Regions from separate parts of the Homo sapiens genome. Here region 1 is linked to region 2. The links come from fine-mapping of genetic effects on gene expression. Tissue or cell type: whole blood. Region 2 holds a variant in brackets; the other region holds the start of a gene. All regions are shown on one strand. Distances are from middle to middle.

Region 1 (10,880 bases), 20 kb after region 2:
GCCCGATCTCAGCTCACTGCAACTTCCACCTCCCGGGCTCAAGCAATTCTCCTGTCTCAGCCTCCCGAGTAGCTGGGATTACAGGCATGGGCCACCACACCCAGCTAATTTTGCATTTTTAGTAGAGACAGGGTTTCACCGTGTTGGTCAGACTGGTCTCGAACTCCCGACCTCAGGTGATCCACCCGCCTCAGCCTCCCAAAGTGGTAGGATTATAGGCATAAGCCACGGCGCCCAGCCTCAGATAGCTTTTCCTAAACCAGATCTACTTCACTTCTAAAATCTTAAACTTCAATGTGACAGTTTCAGACAAAATCTCCAACCCTTCCAATTATCTCATTCCTTTACTCCATTACTTTTCCACCTAGATAGCATTCCCAATCCTTTGACGGTTCTTTCCTTTTCTCTCCAGGCTATCAGCTACCGCCCTCTCCTCCCCTTCCTTATATATCCTCAATCTAGTGGCCAATCCCATCAACACAAAGTGAGGCACTCTAATCCCTCTCATCACTTTGCCATTCAGGCACCAAATCCTGCATGTGTTTAACCCTTCTGAATGTCCATAATGAATATTCTTTTTTTCTTTTTTGAGACCAGGTTATGAGACTGGCTAATTTTTGTATTTGGGGTAGAGACAGAGTTTTCATCATGTTTCCCAGACTGATCTCAAACTGCTGGGCTCAAGTGATCTGCCTGACTTGGCCTCCCAAAGTGCTTGGATTACAGGCATGAGCCACCACACCTGGCCCCATTTTCTACTTAAGTTACTCAGAGTCCATTTGTAGACTCCGTATTTCCACCCCAGATATTGCTCCTAAACCCTAGACTTCAAAAATAAGACTGCTTTAATGAGCATATCCCTCTTACCTTTATTAGTAGTCACTCCTCACCCCCAGGATAAAGTTCAATTTCCTTAATGTAGCAAATGAGGCCCTTGGAAATCTAATTTAGTGCACTGCCTATTACAGATGACTAATGGAGCAACAAGCCTAACTCAAAATAGCCCTCTCCATTACCATATTTTTGCTGTACAACCCTTTGCCATTGCTAATTGAACCATGGGTAGACAAAACTGGGTCACAAAGGCTTTCTCTCTAGGGGATTCTGAAACCTGACAGGAGAGATCAAAGACTGGGAATTATGGAAGATAGGCCAGCACTCTAAAGCTGTAGCTCCCAACCAGGAGTAATTTTGCCTCCTATGAGACATTTGGCAATGTCTGGAGACATTAAACATCCTACAATGCACAGAACAGCCTTCACAACAAAGAACTATCTATTTCAAAATGCCAATGATGCCAAGGTTAAAAAACCCTGCTGCTACTTTAAGAGGAAGGTCCAAGAACTCTTCCAATGAGATTCTAGGAGCTAGCTGGTTCCTGTTCTTTCCTTGATTTGGTTGTTCAGATATTCTTCTGCTTTCTGTTACATTTCCCTTTTTACTTAAATAGATCAGCTTTCTGATGTTTGCAGGCAAAACAACTTTACTAGCACAGAACCCTAGCTCAATCATACGACACACACCTGTACACTTTAAGCTGGTTTCTCAATCTCGGAACTACTGACATTTGGGCAAATAATTATTTGTTGTGAGGGAATATGCTGTGCAATGTAGAACGTCTAGCAGCATCCCTGGCCTCTATTCACTAGATGGCAGTAGTATTACCCTCCCCTCCAAGTCTTGACAATTAAAAATATCTCCAGACACTGCCAAATGTCACCTCAAGACAAACTGACCCTGGTTGACAACTGCTGCTTTAAACTATACGATGACTCCACCGAGGTGAGGTGAATGTCTGCCCAGTCAACTCCCACTCCCAGGAAACCTTGTGCAGAGCACAGTATGCCCTTAGCCTAAGGGAGCGAAGGAGAAGAGAGTGTCTGTATCCAAAACTTCCCTACCCCTTTTCAGGTCCTGGCTTAATTAAATATACGTCCACTTTGCCGATTTGCAAGCGCCTGTTCACAGGTGTGTACATGTGTATACACATACACATACACACACACACACACACACTAATGTCTTGAGCTGAAAGGTAGCTTCTGCTTTTATTTCCTTTCTCACATTTGTTACGACTTCTCTTTAGAAGTTTCCATTCCCATGTGAAAAACTACTCTCCTAGAAAACCCTCCCAAAATACATTCAGTCCTATTACAGTTTGAAAAATCGGGGCAGTTTCTCCTTCAAAAGCTTTTCCTGTTTCACTCTGGAAAAATGTCACTACTCTAAGCTCCCCCATCCCACCAACACACCTCCTTGTCCTCATTTCAGATTCTTCAAGTAGATAAACTTTTTATTAACAACTGGAGAGATGTTTGGAATACAAACTAACAATTAGGCAAGGAACAAGTATATAGATTTACAGTTCTCAAATAGTTTAGCATTGAGTTAAAGAATCTGTTAATCTCTTAAGAACAATTCCTCTTCCATACTTTCCCAACATACCAGCTTCTCAAGTCCCTTCATCCAGGCAAAGATGGTTTTAATCTTGCAACTGCACTATATTTCAACCTCAAGGCTAAAAATGAGAGCTCTTTCTCATGTTGGTTCACAGTCTTCCTCCTTACTGGCAGAACTCCTCCCCCCATACAATAACTGGGTTATTTCCTTACCGGAAGACCCCTCATATAAACCCCTGTAAGAACTAGGTCATTTTCCTAGTTATTTTCCAGGATCCAAAGGCACCACATTTATTTAATGATTCAATTACTCACTGCCTCCTAAAGCCACAGGGAAACTGGTCATTCCCAAATCTATAAGAATATTGGCAGTAGTCTTGCCTCAGTAAAAAAAAGCAATGTAAGAGAAAGTAAGCTCATTCATGTTATGTATCCACATTCATGCAACAAATAGTTGTTGAGTACCTACTTTATGCCAGCCTCAAGACAAAAATCCCTGCTCTCATAGAGTCTACATTTAAGTGGAGAAAGACAAAAATACATAAAGAAATAAATATGTACGACAGACAAGCATGAGTGCTATGGAGAAAAATAATGCAAGCAAGAGGACTGGCAATATGGGGGCTCACAATTTTAAACTCTGTGGTCAGGAAAGGTCACCTTTGAGAAGGTGCAATGGGTTGCATACACAGGCCTCACATGATGTCTAGTATTAGAAACTAGTATGTTCAACTATTTCCTGGTAAACTATATTCTACTGTATCCCAGACCACTAGGTCAATGTAGTGACATCTTCATTACTGGATATTCTATAAAATTAAACTTGAACCAGGTAATTTCAAAAGTTCATTCCTTCCTGAGTAACTATAATTTATCACAACACCTGCCTTCTTTTGTCAATTACGAGCTGCCTTTAGATTTCTGAATAACTATTTTTCTTAGGAGATGACAGCAATTAGCAGTAAGATTAACTTATTAACCAAAAATAAAAATTTGATACTCTTTAGTCACCTGAGTTAAGGATGTTTTGAAATATGAAATAACTGAAAACTCAAGTGTCCCAAAAACTCATCTCTGAAAAAAAAAAAAATCCTCATCACACTATTTATCACACAGCTATTACAAATCATACAGATTTAGAAACTAACCCTAAGGGCCAGGCACGGTGGCTCACACCTGTAATCCCAGCACTTTGGGAGGCCAAGGCAGGCGGATCACCTGAGGTTGGGAGTTTGAGACCAGCCTAACCACCATGGAAAAACCCTGTCTCTACTAAAAATACAAAATTAGCCAGGCGTGGTGGCGCATGCCTGTAATCCCAGCTACTCGGGAGGCTGAGGCAGGAGAACTGATTGAAGCCAGGAGGCAGAGGCTGCCGTGAGCCGAGATCATGCCATTGCACTCCAGTCTGGGAAACAGAGTGAGACTCTGTCTCAAAAAAAAAAAAAAAAAAAAAAAAAATATATATATATATATATATATATAAAATAAAATAAAAACTAGCCCTAAAGACTCAATTTTCAATATATGGGTGTTTTCTATCTCATGCAGTAAGCCATTACATCTTTGTTCTTAATTTTTTTTATTATACTTTGGTATGCATGCTCTTAATTTTTAAGAGCCCCTCTCAAATGGAGTTCTATAAAAGAATTAAACTCTAATGCACTATCTGTTGATTGAATTAACTTTTCTTCCAAGCATCTAGAGTGGTACTAGCTATGCAGCATCATCCTTGGACGAGTGAGAAAGTAGGCATTCAAATCATTTTCTGCAGATCTGTATTTTCTTGTGGAGCTGGGTATGAGAAAGGCGGGAGGACATAAATTAAAAATAGATAAAACCTTCCAAAATAAGATAGTTCAAGATTGGGCCATATATATAATTTTAAAAGAAACTTTTCAATGAGTGATAACATTAAGAAATACATATTCATGCAGGGCGTGGGGGCTCACACCTGTAATCCCAGCACTCTGGGAGGCCGAGGACCGCGGATCACCTGAGGTTGGGAGTTCAAGACCAGCCTGGCCTGGTGAAACCCAGTCTCTACTAAAAAAATACTACATATATACACATATATATGTGTAGTGTATACACATATATATGTAGTACACATATATATGTATGTGTATATATGTGTATATATGTATATGTATATATGTACATATGTATATATATGTACACACACACACACACGCTGCTATACTTTGCTACTTTTAAGAAAAGTGCTATATCTTATTCAGTATTATAAGTGAGGAAAATATTTGCTGAATCACAGAAGTAGAATTCTGTTCCCAATATATAACCTGTGGTATAAGACAATCTGGGGAATCAAGAATTATGTTTACTATACAAGTCTATAATCATACCCGTGTCTTCCCAAAATTAGTTAAAATTAACTTACAAATCGAACAGAAAGGGATCCTAACCAAGGGCTTTGAGTTCGCTGGTAACAACTTGGAACAAGAGCCTACATTTAGCCTGTGTCTTGAGACAAACACGGAGAAGCCAAGAGCAGTAACAAACTGCCAGCCTTACTGAGTCATGTTTCTGACTAAAACCGCGTTATGAAATGGAGAGAATGACATGTCTTGGGTTTAATCACCACAGATGTTAACTCCCTGAATTTTAGAGTTGCAGAGGAAAAAGAGCAAAAACCAAAAAAAAAAAATGTTCAGTAATAATGATGTGGGTCTCATAGGACTCCAGAAAGAACCTGCCAAAGCTGCGAACTCTGCTTATTTACCTAAAACAAATCCTAACTGTGCAAACAGGCACACCCTCTGATGCCACAGAGCGGGAACGCCAAGGTGGGAGGAATTCAGAACAATCACAAGGTTAACGTTCCACTGAGAACACAGCCTCCACTGAGCGTCCACACTGCGCCAGAAGCCCTCGGTTAACGGAACCGCTCTGCTCCAAGGGGAAGGAGCACCGAACTCGAGTTAGAGCCCAGCACATTAACCAGGCACTTGGGTGACGCCAGGCCACCTCCAGCCTCCGCTCAGTACCGCACAGAGCCGAGCCGGGACGCCCCCAGACGCCGCGCCGGGAGCGATCCCAGCCCGCCGCGCTCCGCACTCCGGGCTCCTCCGCGCGCCCACCCTGGGAGAAGACGCGTCAGGGGCCGATTCGTGAGGCCAGCCCCCGGCGCCGCCGGCGACAAGAGATCCGGGGCCGCGACCTCTGCCCCGGCCAGAGCGGGGAAGTCCGAAGGTCGCCTCCCGCACAGCCGCCAGGCGCCGCCGCCCCCGAAGCCGCAGGCTGACTCCAGTGCGGGCTGGGGTGGAGGCCGACTGGCGCCGACACCGAGGCGCTCACTGACCTGGAGAGGTGCTTCAAGATTTGTTTCTTGATGATCCCGGCCATGGTACCGAGGCTGGAGACGCCGCGGTCTCGTCCTGTTGCTCACTGCCTCCTCTCTTCGTGGCCGTCTCCTCTCTGTCCCGGCTAGCCCGGCCGGCGGAGAGGCGCTGATCGCTCACGACCGGGAGAGACCCAAGGCCCCGGCCAAGGCCACAGCCGCCGCCGAGAACCCGGAGCATCACGCTCAGGCCGCCACGGCCGCCGCGGGCGCCATCTTGGCTGCAGCATCACCTAAGAGACTCGGTGGAGGGCGGGGGCGGGGCGGCTCCAGGCGGGGCCGGCACGAGGCGGGGCGGGGCCAACGCCGGCTCTGGGCGGGCTCTGGGCGGGCTCTGGCTGGGCTCTGGCTGGGCTCTGGGCGGGGGCGGGAGGTTTGTGGCATTGGCGCCAGGGTTCTTAGCCCTCGCGACACAGGGCCCTTGACTCTCAATACACCATCCTTCTTGGCCTTAATCCTCCCTCCTTCCCTCTGCTGGTGTTCCCGCCTCCATCGCTGACCCGTCGCTGATTTTTACTTCCACGTCCTACTTCCCTTATTCATTTCCTCAGAATGTTTTTTATTTTTTTGCTTGTTTGTTTTTTTTTTTGAGACAAGTCTTGCTCTGTCACACAGGCTGGAGTCCAGTGGTACGATCTCGGCTCATTGCAACCTCCACCTCCAGGGTTCAAGCGATTCTCCTGCTTCAGCCTCCTGAGTAGCTGGGATTACAGGTGCGCACCACCACGGCCGGCTAATTTTTGTATTATTAGAGACGAGGTTTCACCATATTGGCCAGTAGGTCTCGAACTTCTCACCTCGTGATCCACCCTCCTAGCCTCCCAAAGTGCTGACATTACAGGCGTGAGCCACTGCACCCGGCCTCCTTAGAATGTTTTAAGAATCGGCCATTAACTCCTGTGCTTGCTTTGCTCTCTTGACCTACTCACCTTTCTTCATATTCTTCCTTAGGTTTTTGTTTTTGGTGTTTTTTTTTTTTCTTTTGTTAAGGTGTCCTGCCTTTCCCTTACCTAAATGTGGCAATTTAATGTTTCCTTTGGTTATTGCTATTCTAAGGGAAGTAAAGGTTGACAATGGTTCCTAGTAGTCTAGGACCTAGGAATTAGAAGGTGTATAATTCAAGTCCTGGCTCTGGTATTTTCTAGCTGTGTTATCCTGGGGAAAATAATTTCTTTACTATTAGTTTCATTTTAATCATCTGTGAAATAGATTAATCATCAGCCTTACCCACTTCACTAGGTTGAACCTAAAGGTGTAAATATCATATGAAAAGTTCTGTAAGGAAGGAAGGAAATTGTTGAACTAGGGAAAACTGTTACAATTCTACACCTCCACCCCACCCAATCCCAAACAGAGCTAACATTTTCAGAGATTAAAATGACGACTTCTGTCATCCCAGCACTTTGGGAGGCCGAGGCAGGCAGATCACTTGAGGTCAGGAGTTCAAGACCAGCCTGACCAACATGGTGAAACTCTGTGTCTACAAAAAAAAAATACAAAAATTAGCTGGGCATAGTGGCGGGCGCCTGTAATCCCAGCTACTCAGGAGGCTGAGGCAGGAGAATTGCTTGAACCCGGGAGGCAAATGTTGCAGTGAGCTGAGATCAAGCCACTGCACTCCAGCCTGGGCGACAGAGCAAGACTGTCTCAAAAAAAAAAAAAATTACTCAGTGTTAAGTCAAGTTTAGCCTAACACTGCCTCCTTACGTAATTGAGTTCAGCCTAAAGGTTTTTCTGTACATCATGAACTTATGAAAATAAGCAGAGGTATAAACCGACCATAGCCCACACCTGTGCCAATCACTGAGTTTTGGCCAGATGTAGCCAACTGTTCAGACTGTGTTCAAATAAGGCAAACACTGAGCTGTAAGCAATCCAGTTGTTTCTGTACCTCACTTCCATTTTCTAGACCTCACTTTCCTTTTGCTGGCCAGAAATCTGCTCCCAGCATGTGGCTGTGCTGGAGTCTCTCTGAATCTGCTGTGATTATGGGGGCTGCCAGACTCAGGAATCGTTCATTGTTAAACTCCTTTAAATTTAATTTGGCTGAAGTTTTTCTTTTAACACTAGTGATATCTAAAACAGGAAAAGAAATTGTACCACCCCTGAGGGATGTATTAGCAAGATGTGTGGTTGTACATCTTGGGAGTTGGGTGGGAAGTAGTTTACACATAGTCCAATAAGCTGGCCCTTTTTGAAGAATGGAAAGGATAGACGTGTAAGTTGACTACACTCAACATTTCATTTTATTTTTATTTTATTTTTGAGACAGTCTTACTCCATCGCTCAGGCTGGAATGCAGCAGCACGATCTTGGCTCGCTGCGACCTCCGCCTCCCAGGTTCAATCAGTTCTCCTGCCTCAGCCTCCCAAGTAGCTGGGATTACCAGGCTAATTTTTGTATTTTTAGTAGAGACGGAGTTTCACCATGTTGGCCAGGCTGGTCTCGAACTCCTGACCTCACGTGATCCGCCCGCCTCAGCCTTCCAAAGTGTTGGGATTACAGGCATCAGCCACCACACCCAGCTGACTACACTCAACATTTATCATAGATTATAAACCAGGCACTATTCAAGTATCCTGGGGTTGCCTAAATGAAAACAAAAATCTCTGTTCCTGCCATCAGAGTTAACGGCCTGGCTTGGAAGGCAGACTCATGTTACTTACACCTTCAGCTCTGTTAGTAGACTCTGGTTCAAATGCTGGCCACTTTATAACTGTGTAAACTTCAGCAAATTAATCTTTCTCAGCTTCAGTGATCTCATGTGTTAAGAGATATTATTATTAGTAGCTACTGTTAACCTGCCTTATAGCAAACTCAATAAAGGCTAGGTATTATTAATTACTTTACCAAAAACAAGCAAAGTGCTATAAGAACACAGAGGAAGGAGTAATTCATTTGGGGACAGACTTATAGTAGAGGTATTATTTCAAAGATATGAATAAATCCATTTAATTTTTTTAAAAAAATGGACCCTGAAATCAAAGACTTGGATTTAAAACTGAAGCAGGAGGGTTCCCTGACTTCACTCGCAGGACTAACACTAATGCACGAAGTACACAGGGGGGTGGCTCATCTGCTTGGCTACCGAGCACATGCAAACCCCTAATAGGACAGGGAGCACACAGATGGGCAAGTGCAGAAGCCGGAGCAAGGACTTTTGAACTCTGGCCCCATGGTAGCGTCTAGGGGTGGGTAACTGCAACTCCTGAAGCCCAAGTGGGCATGCGTTACACTGCACTCTTTTAGCTTTGTTGTCCACAGATAGCTTAAGTGTTAACTAGCTCAGTGCCCTCTTAGTATCCAGGTCATTGTCAGGCATCCAGAAAGAGGTCACACAGGGACTTGAAGGACGGTGAATGTGGGGTTTTATTGAGTGGTAGAGGTGGCTCTCAACAGGATGGATGGGAAGCTGGAAAGGGGATGGAGTGGGAAGATGATCTTCCCCTGGAATTTGGCCATCCAGTGGCCAAACTCTTCTCAGCGTTCAGTCACTACTTCTCTTGTCTCTGCTGCACTGGTCTGCCATTCTTCTGCTCATCTGTTCATCTCCTTGTCTGCTCATCTGCTTGTGGAGCCTGGGGTTTGGGCTTTCTATGGATACAAGATAGGGTGCTGTGGCAGGCCAAAAGGCAACTTTTGAGCACAAAAACAGAAATGCCTGTTCCCATTTAGGACGGTGGGTTTCCAGGCTTGAGAGTAGGGCATTTGCCAGGGAACCACTCTGTTCTACCCAGTATTTCCCTGTCTCCTGTCCATATCAAAACTGAACTCTGCAGATATTTAGCTATGCTGGTTGTGGTAGGGTGACCCCCAAATTGGGGTTCAGGCTGGGAGGCTACTTGGGTTCCTGCCTTCTGCAGGAAAGAATTCAAGACCAAGCTGACAAGAGTAAAGTGAAACCAAGTTTGTTAAGAAAGTAAAGAAATAAAAGGATAGCTACGCCATAAGCAGAGTAGCAGCATGGGCTGCCCAACTATACTTATGGTTATTTCTTGATTATATGCTAAACAAAGGGTACATATTCATGAGTTTTCTAGTAAGGGTGCAGGGAGTTCCTGGAACTGAGAGTTCCTCCCCCTTTCAGATCATATAGGGTAATTTCTCCATGTTACCATGGCATTTGTAAACTGTCATGGCCCTGATGGGAGTTTCCTTTAGTATGCAAATATATTATAATTAGTGTTTAATGAGCAGTGAGGATGACCAGAGGTTGCTTTCATGACCATCTTGGTTTTGATGGGTTTTGGCCAGCTTCTTTACCTCATCCTGTTTTATCAGTGACAAAGGAGAAAGTCAAAATATTTTACCCCAAAACATGTTTCTTTGCCATATTTTGAAATGGTCCTGCAAAGCCATTCTTTGTGGGGGAAAATTTGCATCTATAAAGAATCTCTATTAACATAGTTAGGTTTTTTTCTTACAGGCCCTCTCAATCCTGAAGAGATTAACTAAGAGTCTATCACCTTTTAAAGGTCTGAATACGAAACATTTGTCATCTATTGTCTCTAAGGGCAGCCACATTAAGACTTCAAAAGAACTTTGGTCTCCACGATCTTTTATCTTAACCAGATCATCCAGGTCTTTAGACAAAGTCAACCAATTGTCAACCAGAAAATGTTTAAATTTACCTATAGCCTGGAAGCTCCCCTCCTTTGACTTGTCTTGCCCTTCTGGACCAAACCAATGTATTTCATTTTTTCGAGATGGAGTCTTGCTCTGTCGCCAGGCTGGAGTGCAGTGGCGCAATCTCAGCTTACTGCAACCTCTGCCTCCTGGGTTCAAGCGATTCTTCTGCCTCAGCCTCCTAGGTAGCTGGGACTACAGGCGCATACCACTACACCCAGCTAATTTTTGTATTTTTAGTAGAGACAGGGTTTCACCATGTTGGCTAGGATGGTCTCAATCTCCTGACCTTGTGATCTACCTGCCTCGGCCTCCCAAAGTGCTGGGATTACAGGCGTGAGCCACCGCGCCTGGCCAAACCAATATATATATATATTTTTGAGATGGAGTCTCACTCTATTGCCCAGGCTGGAGCACAGTAGTGCGATCTTAGCTCACTGCAACCTCTGCCTCTGGGTTCAAGCAATTCTTCTGCCTCAGCCTCCCGAGTAGCT
Region 2 (10,880 bases):
TACGTGTAATGAGAAAAGACTAAAATTGCTTTTCCCCTAAGACAGGGACAAGGCAAGGGTGTTTGCTCTCATCACTTTTTTCCAACAATGTATTGAAGGTTCTAGCCAACACAATAAGGTAAGAAAAATATATAAAAGGCATCTGGTTTTGAAAAGTAGTAAAATTATTTTTTCCCAGATGACATGATCACCTGTGTAGAAAATCATACAGAATTATTAAAGACATTGCCAGAACTAAAAAATGAGTGTAGCAATGTTGCAGGATATAAGGCCAATATAAAAATAAATCAGTTGAAGGGACAGAGGAGCCGTAAGAAAGAATTACCAATAGCCAAAGCTGAAAGAATCTGAGCAACAAAATAAATAAAACAGTACTGGATAATAACACAAACTATAAAACAAAAATACAGAAGTCTACACTAATATAAACATATGATTAAATAAATAAATAACTTGGAGAAAATAGAGAAATCTTCCTGGCAGAAAAGTTCCAAAAAAATTACATAGATATTCTAGTCTCAGGGAGGTGGAGCATAACTCCTCATTCTTTTAGTGAGGGCTGCACATAGTACTTCCTTCCAAAATGTTCAGTAAGAAAATGGGGAAAAGAATAACTTTACAGTGGAGAACTTGGCAAATGCTACATCAGCCAGGTTATCAACGTCAACATCGGCAATAAGACATGTTGATAATATGTACCCCTGATTTGACATAATAAAAAGAGCTCTTAACTAACCTCTGTGGTCTCCTTGCCAAAAACCCCTAATGCCAATCTAATCCTAAGAAAAAGGGTAGACATACACTAGTGACTTCAGAATTACCTGCAGAACTTTTTATTTATTTATTTTGAGGCAGTCTCGTTCTGTCGCCCAGGCTGGAGGGCAGTGGTGTGATCACAGCTCACTGCAGCCTTGAACTCCTGGGCTCAAGTGATCCTCCCCTGCCTCGACCTCCTAAGATCCTCCCCTGCCTCCACCTCCCCTGCCTCCACCTTGACCTCCTCAACATGCCCAGCACCACCACGTCCAGCTCATTTTTAATTTTTTTGTAGAGATGGGGTCTCGCTGTGTTGCCCAGGCTGGTCTCAAACTCCTGGGCTCAAGCAATCCTCCTGCTGTGGCCTCCCAAAGTGCTGGGATTACAGGCATGAGCCACCGCACCTGACCTTTGGGGTGCTTTTTAAAACTACTCCATTTCAAGCCCATTCCCAGAGATTCTGGTGCTCTTGATATGGAGCAGGGCCTAGAAATCTCCATTTTAGGAAGTTATCTGGGGGACTCATTTATATGCATCAGATTTAAAATCACAGATTTATCGTGGAGGAGATACAAAGAATGCCTTTTTTATACTACTCTTATCAATCCTGGACTTATGTGTATCGATTTTATAGAGCAACCAAAGATATCTTGACACAGTTGAAATTGGCATTTCTCTTGGTCCCAGAAAAAAAAATGAGTAATTTTATATAAATTTTTGTATTTTTTTTAAAGGAAAACAGCAGACAAACCCCAATTGAAGGACACTGTACAAAACACGTGGCCAGGTCTCCTCAAAACTTTCAAGGTTGGCTGGGCACGGTGGCTTATGCCTCTCCAAAAAAATAAAATATTAGCCAGGTGTAGTGGTGCATGCCTGTAGTTCTAGCTACTCAGGAGGCTGAGGCAGGAGGACTGCTTAAGCCCAGGAGGTTGAGGCTGCAGTGAGTCATAATCACACTACTGCACTCCAGTCTGGGAGAGTGAGTGAGACCGTCTCAAAACAAAACAAAACAAAACAAAACAAAAAACTCTCAAGGTCTTCAAAAACAAGGAACGTCTGAGAAATGGGCACAACCAAGAGGAGCCTAAAAAGACATGATGACTAAATGTAATATATTTGGAATGGGACCATGGAATAGAAAAAGGACATTGGGTAAAAGAAATACTAAGGAAATTTGAACAGAGTATGGCCTATAATAATTATCAACATTAGTTAATTGTGATGAACCATATGAATGTAAAATGCTAATAGTAAGAGAGACTAAATGTTGGGTATGAGAATTCTGCATTATCTTCACAACCTTTCTATAAATCCATAACTATTCTAAGATTAAAAGCTTATTTTTAAAAAATCAGAGCTGATTATGGAAAGTTTATTCATTTTATTGTATGTAAATTTCACTCAATAAAAATTATAATAAAGAAATCAGCTGGGTGTTGCGGTTCATGCCTGTAACTCCAGCACTGTGGGAGGCCAAGGCGAGCAGATCACAACGTCAGGAGTTCAAAGACCAGCCTGGCCAACATGGTAAAACTCTGTCTTTACTAAAAATACAAAAATTAGCTGGGCTTAGTGGCATGCACCTGTAGTCCCAGCTACTCGGGAGGCTGAGGCAGGAGAATTGCTTGAACTCAGGAGGCGGAGGTTGCAGTGAGCCGAGATCGCGCCACTGCACTCCAGCCTGGGCGACAGAGCCAGACTCTGTCTCAAAAATGAAATAAAATAAAAAAATAAATAAATAAATTATGTTTCTATATGTAGCAACAATCAGAAACTGAATATTTTAAACTACCATTAACATTAGCATAAGAAATATGAAATTTTTAGGGATAAATTTGTCAAAAGGTGTGCAAGACCTAGAAACTGAAAACTACAAAATACTGTTGCAAGAAATTGAAGAAGATCTAAATAAATGAAGAAATAAAACATATTAGTGGATTAAACTCAATACTGTTAAAATGTCATCAATTCTCTCAAAAAGACTTACAGATTCAAGGCAACCCTAAGCAAAACCCAAGCAGGCTTCTTTTTTGAGAGAAATGACATACTGATTCTAAAATTTTCATGAAAATGTAGAAGACCTAGAATATCCAAAATAACTCTGAAAAAGATGAACAAAGTTGGAAACATTATACTGCCAATTTCAAGACTTATCTAAAAGCTACAGTAATCGAGGCAGTCTGATAATGGTGGGTGTAAATAAATAATAAATGCAACAAAATACAGAGTCCAGAAAAAGACCCAAATTCATGGTTAGCTAATTTCCAACAAAGGTGCAAAAACAAGTCAATGAAAATAATATTTTTAAGAAGTGGTACCAGAATGATGTTACAGCCATATGCAAAAAAAACAAAAAACAAAAAAATCCTTGACCTTTACCTCACCCCATAAACAAAAATTAACTCTAAATTATCACAGACCTAAATCTAAGAACTACAACTTAAAAACTCCTGAAGAAAATATTAGTAACCTTGAGTTTGGTAGATTTAACGCAACAAAAAATGCACAAATCATAGGAGAAAAAAATAAGTTAGTGGATCAAAATTAAAACCTCTGCCCTTTGAAAGACACTGTAACTACAGGGCAACCATAGACTGGGAAAAAATATTTCCAAAGCATATATTTGAAAAAAGACTTGTACCTACAATTTTTTTTAAATTCTTACAACTTGAAAGTAAGACAATTCACTAACAGGCAAAAGGCCTGGGCGTGGTGCCTCACGCCTGTAATCCCAGCACTTCGGGAGGCCTAGGCGGGCGGATCACCTGAGATAAGGAGTTTGAGACCAGCATGGCCAAAATGGCAAAACCTCATTTCTACTAAAAATACAAAAATTAGCTGAGCGTGAGACAGGCGCCTGTAATCCCAGCTACTCGGGAGGCTGAGGCAGAATTGCTTGAACCTAGGAGGTGGAGGTTTCAGTGAGCCAAGATCGCACCACTGCACTCCAACCTGGGTGACAGAGCAAGATTCCATCTCAAAAAAGAAAAAAATAAAAATAAAAAATAAAATAGGCAAAAGATTTAAAGGGACCTTGGAACCAAAGAAGACACAGATGGCAGATAGGCACTTGAAAAGATGCCCAACATTAGTCATTAGAAAACTGCAAATTAAAAACCACAGTAAGATACCACTACTTATCCACTAAAATAGCTAAAATTAAAAAGGCTAACTATACTGAGTATTGGTGAAGATATGGAGCAACTGGAACTCTCATATACGTATTTGTGAGAATGTAAAATGAACAAGTTGAAACCACTTTGGAAAGCTGTTTGGAATTTGTTTTTAAAGTGATGCATATACCTAGCATATACCTAACCATTCTACTACTAAGAATTTACTTAAAAGGAATGAAAAGCTTAGGACCTTCATATGAAAACATAGCACATACAATTATGTAAGAGAGAGAGAGAGAGAGAGAAAGGCCTATGTCCTCACGAAGATTTATACACGAATGTTCATAATAGCTTTATTTCTAATAGCTGACAAACGGACACAACCCAAATATCTATCAAAAGGTAAACGGATAAATTGTGGTATATCCACAATAGAATAATCAGCAATAAGAATGTACACATACGATAAAATAGATTAATTGCAAGATAATAATGCTGAGTGAAAGAAGCCAGGAAAAAATGCATATTTATATAAAAATCTAGAAAATGCAAACTAGGCCGGGCACAGTGGCACACGCCTGTAATCCCAGCACTTTGGGAGGTCGAGGTGGGCGGATCACCTGAGGTCAGGAGTTTGAGACCAGCCTGACCAACATGGAGGAACCCTGCCTCTACTAAAAATACAGAATTTTTAGTGGGGTGTGGTAGCACATGCCTGTAATCCCAGCTACTCGGGAGGGTGAGGCAGGAAAATTACTTGAACCTGGGAGGTGGAGGTTGCAGTGAGCTGAGATAGTGCCACTGCATTCCAGCCTGGGCAACAAGAGTGAAACTCCATCTCATGGAAAAAAAAAAAAAAAAAAACAGAAAATGCAAACTAACCTAAGTGATATAAAGTAGATCAGTGGTTGCCCAGGAATGAGGCAGAAGGAGAGAGAGGATTACAAAGGAGCATGAGGAAACTTTTGAGGGTGGTGAATATTCATTTTCTTAATTATGGTAATGGTATTATGATTACATATATGTTAAAATTTCATCAGGCCAGGCATGGTGGCTCAAGCTTGTAATCCCAACACTTTGGGAGGCCAAGGAGGGCGGATCACCTGAGGTCGGGAGTTTGAGACCAGTCTGACCAACATGGTGAAACCCTGTCTCTACTAAAAGTACAAAATTAGCGGGCGTGGTGGCGCCCGCCTATAAGCCCAGCTACTTGGGAAGCTGAGGCAGGAGAATTGCTTGAACCCAGAAGGCGGAGGCTGCGGTGAGCTGAGATCGTGCCACTGCACTCCAGCCTGGGCAACAAGAGCGAAAGTCCGTCTCAAGAAAAAAAAGTCATCAAATTGTACACCTTAAATATGTGCAGTGTATTGCCTATAAATCAGTTATATTTTAATAAAGCTGTTCAAATAAGATATATACATACTATATATATACACACACATATATGTGTATATATAAATATCTTAAAAAATAATGAATTTAGCCAGGCATGGTGGTGCCTGCTTGTAATCCCAGATACTCAGGAGGCTAAGGTGGGATTACTTAAGCCCAGGAGTTCCAGACCAGCCTGAGCAACACAGTGAGACTCCATCTCAAATAATAAAATAAAATAAATGAACTTGTTAACTATTAATAAAATACAATGGAATAAAAATATATAAGGTATTAGAACCATGGCCTTTTGAAAACCACCCCATTGCATCTGCCATCCAATGGAGATATTAGAAGCAATTTTAAGCTTAAAAAAGTGGAGCCATAGGCAGTCCTCATACTACAAAGAATATCAAATAATTTAATCCAACCTCCTCATTTTATAGTAGAGAATATGAAGCCTAGAGAGGTTAAGTCAAATGCTGAAGGTCACACTAAAGTAGAGCCCAGACTATAATCAAACCTGTACAATTTTAGTTTAAGAGGTATTTTAGGATCAGTTACCATTCCATTATCATACTGATAAATTTTCAGTTCAACCA[T/C]ATTTACTGAGCATTTACTAGGCATTGTAGCAATATATGGCAACTCTTACCCTCAAGGAGCTTTCAGTGTAAATTTGTAAGACTTAGCATATATTCCAGGCATAAACATTTTCTTTTTTCATAAATTCTGCCTTTGTAGCTCCTAAGAAAACTAATGGTGTGTCTGTGATCCAATAAAACTTTGTTTCCAAAAACAGGCAGTGAGCCAAAGCAGGCCCTTGAGCCATAGTTTGCTCCCTGCTTTACACAAATCCCACATGTCCCATCCCTGCTGAAAACTCTTCAAGAACCCTCTTCTCTACTACATTTTGGATAAACCCCAAACTCCCCAAAAGCCCTTGCACCATCTCCCTTAGGATCCCTTGCCTTCTCTCCGTCTGTTCCTAGAGAAGGCCAAACTTTCTCCCCTGAGAACAGTTGGACATGCAGCTCCCTGTGCCTGGCATGCTTTTCACCCTCTCATCCTTCTCATCTCTTAGGTTTACCCTAATTCATCACCCCTTCAGAGCAGCTTCTCTCCTCTCTCCTCCCATCCCATGCTCTGCTCGCTTCATCCACTTTGATCTTCCTGGTCTATTAGAATTTGCAATTACTTGCCTTCTTACATGTTTGCCTCTCCCCAACTAGAAGATCAGCTCCAAGAGAGCAGGGATCTTGTCCTCAGTCCCTAGCAGAGTGTCTGAGAGATTAAAGGTATTGTACATTCAACAAATATTAACTGAGGACCTACTATGTGGCAGACACCAATCTGGGTGCTTGGGATGTATGAGAGAACAGACAGACAAAGATCTTTGCCCTATAGGGCTTACTATAGTCAGGGCAGACAGAGCCAAAAACAATTTAAAAAAATGGTATTTTAGAAGGAACTGAGTGTTGTAGTGTATAGGGAAACTCTCTAACGATGTTTTTCCTCTGCTCACACAACAATAATCATCAACACAGAAAAATTCTGTGACCGTGTGCGTGGAGTTTTCTCCCCCACACACCAAGCAGTGGACACCAGCTGTGTGCCCTCTAATTCAGTTCAGACACTGTCTATCTGGAGATGGTATCAGATCCCAAATCCCACAGGCTGAGGGCTCAGTCCCAAGACTGCCCTCCGTCACCCCAGTCCTTGCCCACCAAACCCATTGCAAGTCTGGGCCTCCAGAACTTCTGACGGACAGGCTCTTTGAGTTTGATTAACGTCAAGGCATAAATTTTTTAAACTAAAACCTAAAATATTAATGGAACAAGAATCAAAGTATGCTCCCAATGGTTTAAACTGCCTTTTTTTTTTTAAATGCATTCTCAATTTACACAGAGTTTGTCTGGCTTGGTTATTTTTGTAATTATGCGTGTAATGAAAAAAAATCAATCTCATATAACCAGTTTTTCCAAATAAACATTTAAAGAATGAAAGAATGCAAACTGGCAGCCTGTGAGCTGTCTGCCCACAGATACTATTTGGCCCACACAGTGTTTTTAAAAATCTCAATTTGTTGTTAACCTTTAAAATAGGATAGGCATTGTGGCTCATGCCTGTACCCACAACACTTTGGAAGGCCGAAGACAGAAAGACTGCTTGAAGCTAGGAGTTCAAGATCAGCCTGGGAAACATAGCAAGACCCCATCTCTACGAGAATTTTTTTTTTTTTTTTAATTAGCCAAGCATGGTGGTGCATGCCTGTAGACCTAGCTACTTCAGAGGCTGAGACAGGAGGATCACTTGAGCCAAGAAGTTTGAGGCTGCATTTAAGTGTGCACTATGATAACACCATGCACTCCAGTCTGGGAGAGAGAGTGAGACCTTGTCTCTCAAATAAATAAATAAAAACCATTAAAAATGGGTAGACCTAGGCAGGGCACAGTGGCTCACGCCTGTAATCCCAGCACTAAGGGAGGCTGAGGCAAGGAGGACTGCTTGACACCAGGAGTTTGAGACCAGCCTGGGCAACACAGAGATCCTGTCTCTACAAAATATTAAAAAAAATAAAAATTAGCTAGGCATGGTGGCTCACGCCTGTGATCCCAGCACTCTGGGAGGCTGAGGAGGGTAGATCACGAGCTCAGGAGTTCGAGACCAGCCTGACCAACATTGTGAAACCCCATCTCTACTAAAAACACAAAAAAATTAGCTGGGCGTGATGGCACGCGCCTGTAATCCCAGCTATTCAAGGAGGCTAACACAGGAGAATCACTTTAACCCAGGAGGCAGAGGTTGCAGTGAGCCAAGATTGCTCCACTGCACTCTAGCCTGAGAAACAGAGTGAGACTCCATCTCAAAAAATAATAATAATAAAAATAAAAATTAGCTGGGCATGGTGGCACACACCTGTAGTCCTAGCCACTTGGAAGGCTGAGGCAGAAGGATCGTTTGATCCCAGGAGTTAAAAGTTGCATTGAGTTATGATCACACCACTATACTCCCACCTGGGTGACAGAGTGAGACCCTGCCTTAAAAAAAAAAAATTTTATATATATATATATATATATATATATATATATATATATATATTTATATTTATTTATTAAGGTCCATATATATATATATATGGGTAGACCTTACATTAAAATCTGGGCATTGAGGCCGGGCACAGTGGCTCACGCCTGTAATCCCAGCACTCTGGGAGGCCGAGATGGGCGGATCATCCGAGGTCAGGAGTTCCAGATAAGCCCGGCCAACATGGTGAAACCCCGTCTCTACTAAAAATACAAAAATTAGCCAGACATGGAGGCACACGCCTGTAATTCCAGCTACTCAGGGAGGCTGAAGCAGGAGAATCGCTAGAACCCGGGAGGCAGAGGCTACAGTGAGCCAAGATTGCGCCACTGCACTCCAGCCTGGGTGACAGAGCGACCGGTTTCCATCTCAAAAAAAAAAAAAAAAAAAAATCTGGGCATCAGGCTGGGTATGGTGGCTAACGACTACAATCTCAACACTTTGGGAGGCCCAAGGCAGGAGGATTACCTGAGGGCAAGAGTTTGAGACCAGTCTGGGAAACATAGGGAGACCCCATCTCTAGAAAAAATAAAACATTAGCCGAGCATGGTGGTGTACCTGTGGTCTCAACTACTTGGGAGGGTAAGGCAGAAGGATCACTTACGCCTGGGAGGTCAAGGCTGCAGTGAGCTGTGATCACGCCATAGCACTCCAGCATGGGCAACAGAGTGAGGGGAGCAGGGCAGGGCAGAAAATATGGGCATCCAGATTTTATTGAAATATCAGAAGATCTGACACAACTAGACATATATCCTTCATAGCAAAAACTGAGTGCCTACTATTTGCCAGTCACTCATTAGGCTCTTGGGAAATTTAAACAAATAAGAAATAGTTACTGTTTTTCAAGAACTTCACATTTTATTATTAGAAGCAAGCATATAAATAAATCATTGCAATATGTTATGATCTTACTATGTGCTGGGTACTATGTGATAGGTCATACAATAAAAATGGCAACAGGATAAAATGGAATCACAAGGAAAAGGGTGATGATCAATTCTCTTAACAGTAAAGTAGATATCCAGGTGCAGTGGCTCACGCCTGTAATCCCAACACTTTGGGAGGCTGAGGTGGGAGGATGACTTGAGCCCAGGGGTTTGAGAACAGCCTGGGCAAAAGAGTAAGGCTATCTATTAAAATAAAGAAAATAGTAAAGAAGACTTTGGGAAGGCTTCATAAAAGTAGGCAGCACTCAAGCTACGTTTTTAAACAGTAAGTTTTTGTCAAGTGAATAAGGCAGAGAGAAGGACATTTCAGAGGCGGCAGCAGCAGCACGTTCAAGATTACAGGGTCACACAGTAGACACAGATGTAAGATAAGGCCTCAGGTAGTTTGGAAAGAAACAATATTCCTTGAGAAGCCAACTGAAGCCAGATCATGAAGGACTCTTGTTTTCCAAGCCAACGAATATGGGTTTTAACCTACACATCAATGTTTTTCCCACAGTGCCCCTAAGAAGACTGCTCATGGTTCAACTCAAGTGAGAGGAGAAAAAAAAAAAGAAAGAATATGCCAAAGGAACCACCACCACCCACCATCCAATTACTGACTCAACTAGAGGAGCTCTACTTTTGTCTACTTTATGTAGTAAAGTTCTCTTTTAAAATCTCTTTGGGCACAAAAATTCTACTGTTATAAACAAAATTTTTTATTAAAAAAAAAGCTTAAACAGGAGCCATTAAAAGATTTTTAGCAAGAAATTAAATGTTAAGATTAGCATTTTGGAAACATCTTTCTCTTAACAGCGCCAAGGATGGAATACAGAAGTATGAGACCCAAAGGAGATGAAAATACTCAGTGTTTAGTTGCAACAACTGATGCAATAAATAATTAATGAAATCTGGTGATGAGAGATATTCAAATCTTACTGATATCTACTTTATTCCAAGCAGCCTGCTATGTCCTAGGTTTAGGATAAAGAAGATAAGTTCAATAGTTATTTCAATATAAAGTAATCATGACTGATTAAAACAGGAAGGTAAAGAAGAAAAAGGAATGAATCTTGGTAGGTGATTTGAATAAACACATGGATAGCTGTGGTTAAAACTTGGAATACAATCATAACACTTCACCTTGAATAAGCTAAGCATAAACCAGGCCAAAAAAAAAAAAAGATATGTTTTAAGGAGGTATAATCTAGAAAAAACAAAGGGCTACACTTGTGATTATACTTCACGAGCAAGCGTCTCAGAGGATTTGCTAGAGGTATACACAAAATCAGAACCATCCTTGAAAGCCATTTTAAACAATAAAAGACCTTAACTATTAATATACTAAAGTGAATCTCAAAGGTTTCCACCTGAGGTTAAAGCTTGGCACCTTTCCCTTGGCAATTCTGTTTGAGATCCAGGTTCCCAAATGAAAGCATGGAATCAATGCAGGCAAGAACGTAAAACAATATTTAGGCCACTAGGCCTATACAATTGCTTTAGCATATAGCCAATAAGTTTCTCATTTGTCCATTACTCTTAGGTAAGTATGTAATAAGTTGCACAATTCTACTTGTGGCATTTAATTAACAATTTATTACAAGACTTTTGGAAGTTCAAA

What was found. PIP is the estimated chance that this variant, and not a neighbour inherited with it, causes the effect.
Region 1: BLTP3B starts here. The variant in region 2 is fine-mapped to the expression of BLTP3B in whole blood (INTERVAL, PIP above 0.99). The same link has a PIP of 0.9 or more in visceral fat.

Annotation. Positions count from the first base shown.
Region 1 is chr12:100,136,871-100,147,750 of GRCh38, forward strand. BLTP3B (bridge-like lipid transfer protein family member 3B) reads right to left here and starts at 6,004. Exons shown (of 21, transcript NM_015054.2): 1 at 5,722-6,004. The coding sequence starts at 5,765. BLTP3B-DT (BLTP3B divergent transcript) reads left to right here and starts at 6,185. Exons shown (of 2, transcript NR_186018.1): 1 at 6,185-6,473; 2 at 7,670-7,801. RefSeq lists silencers at 1,881-2,030, 5,419-5,668, 5,989-6,168 and enhancers at 5,549-6,312, 9,725-10,533.
Region 2 is chr12:100,116,635-100,127,514 of GRCh38, forward strand. All of the region lies in intron 1 of BLTP3B (bridge-like lipid transfer protein family member 3B), which reads right to left. Among named protein-coding and RNA genes, the nearest start is that of BLTP3B, 21 kb to the right of the region's middle. The variant T/C (reference allele first, on the strand shown) is at 5,849.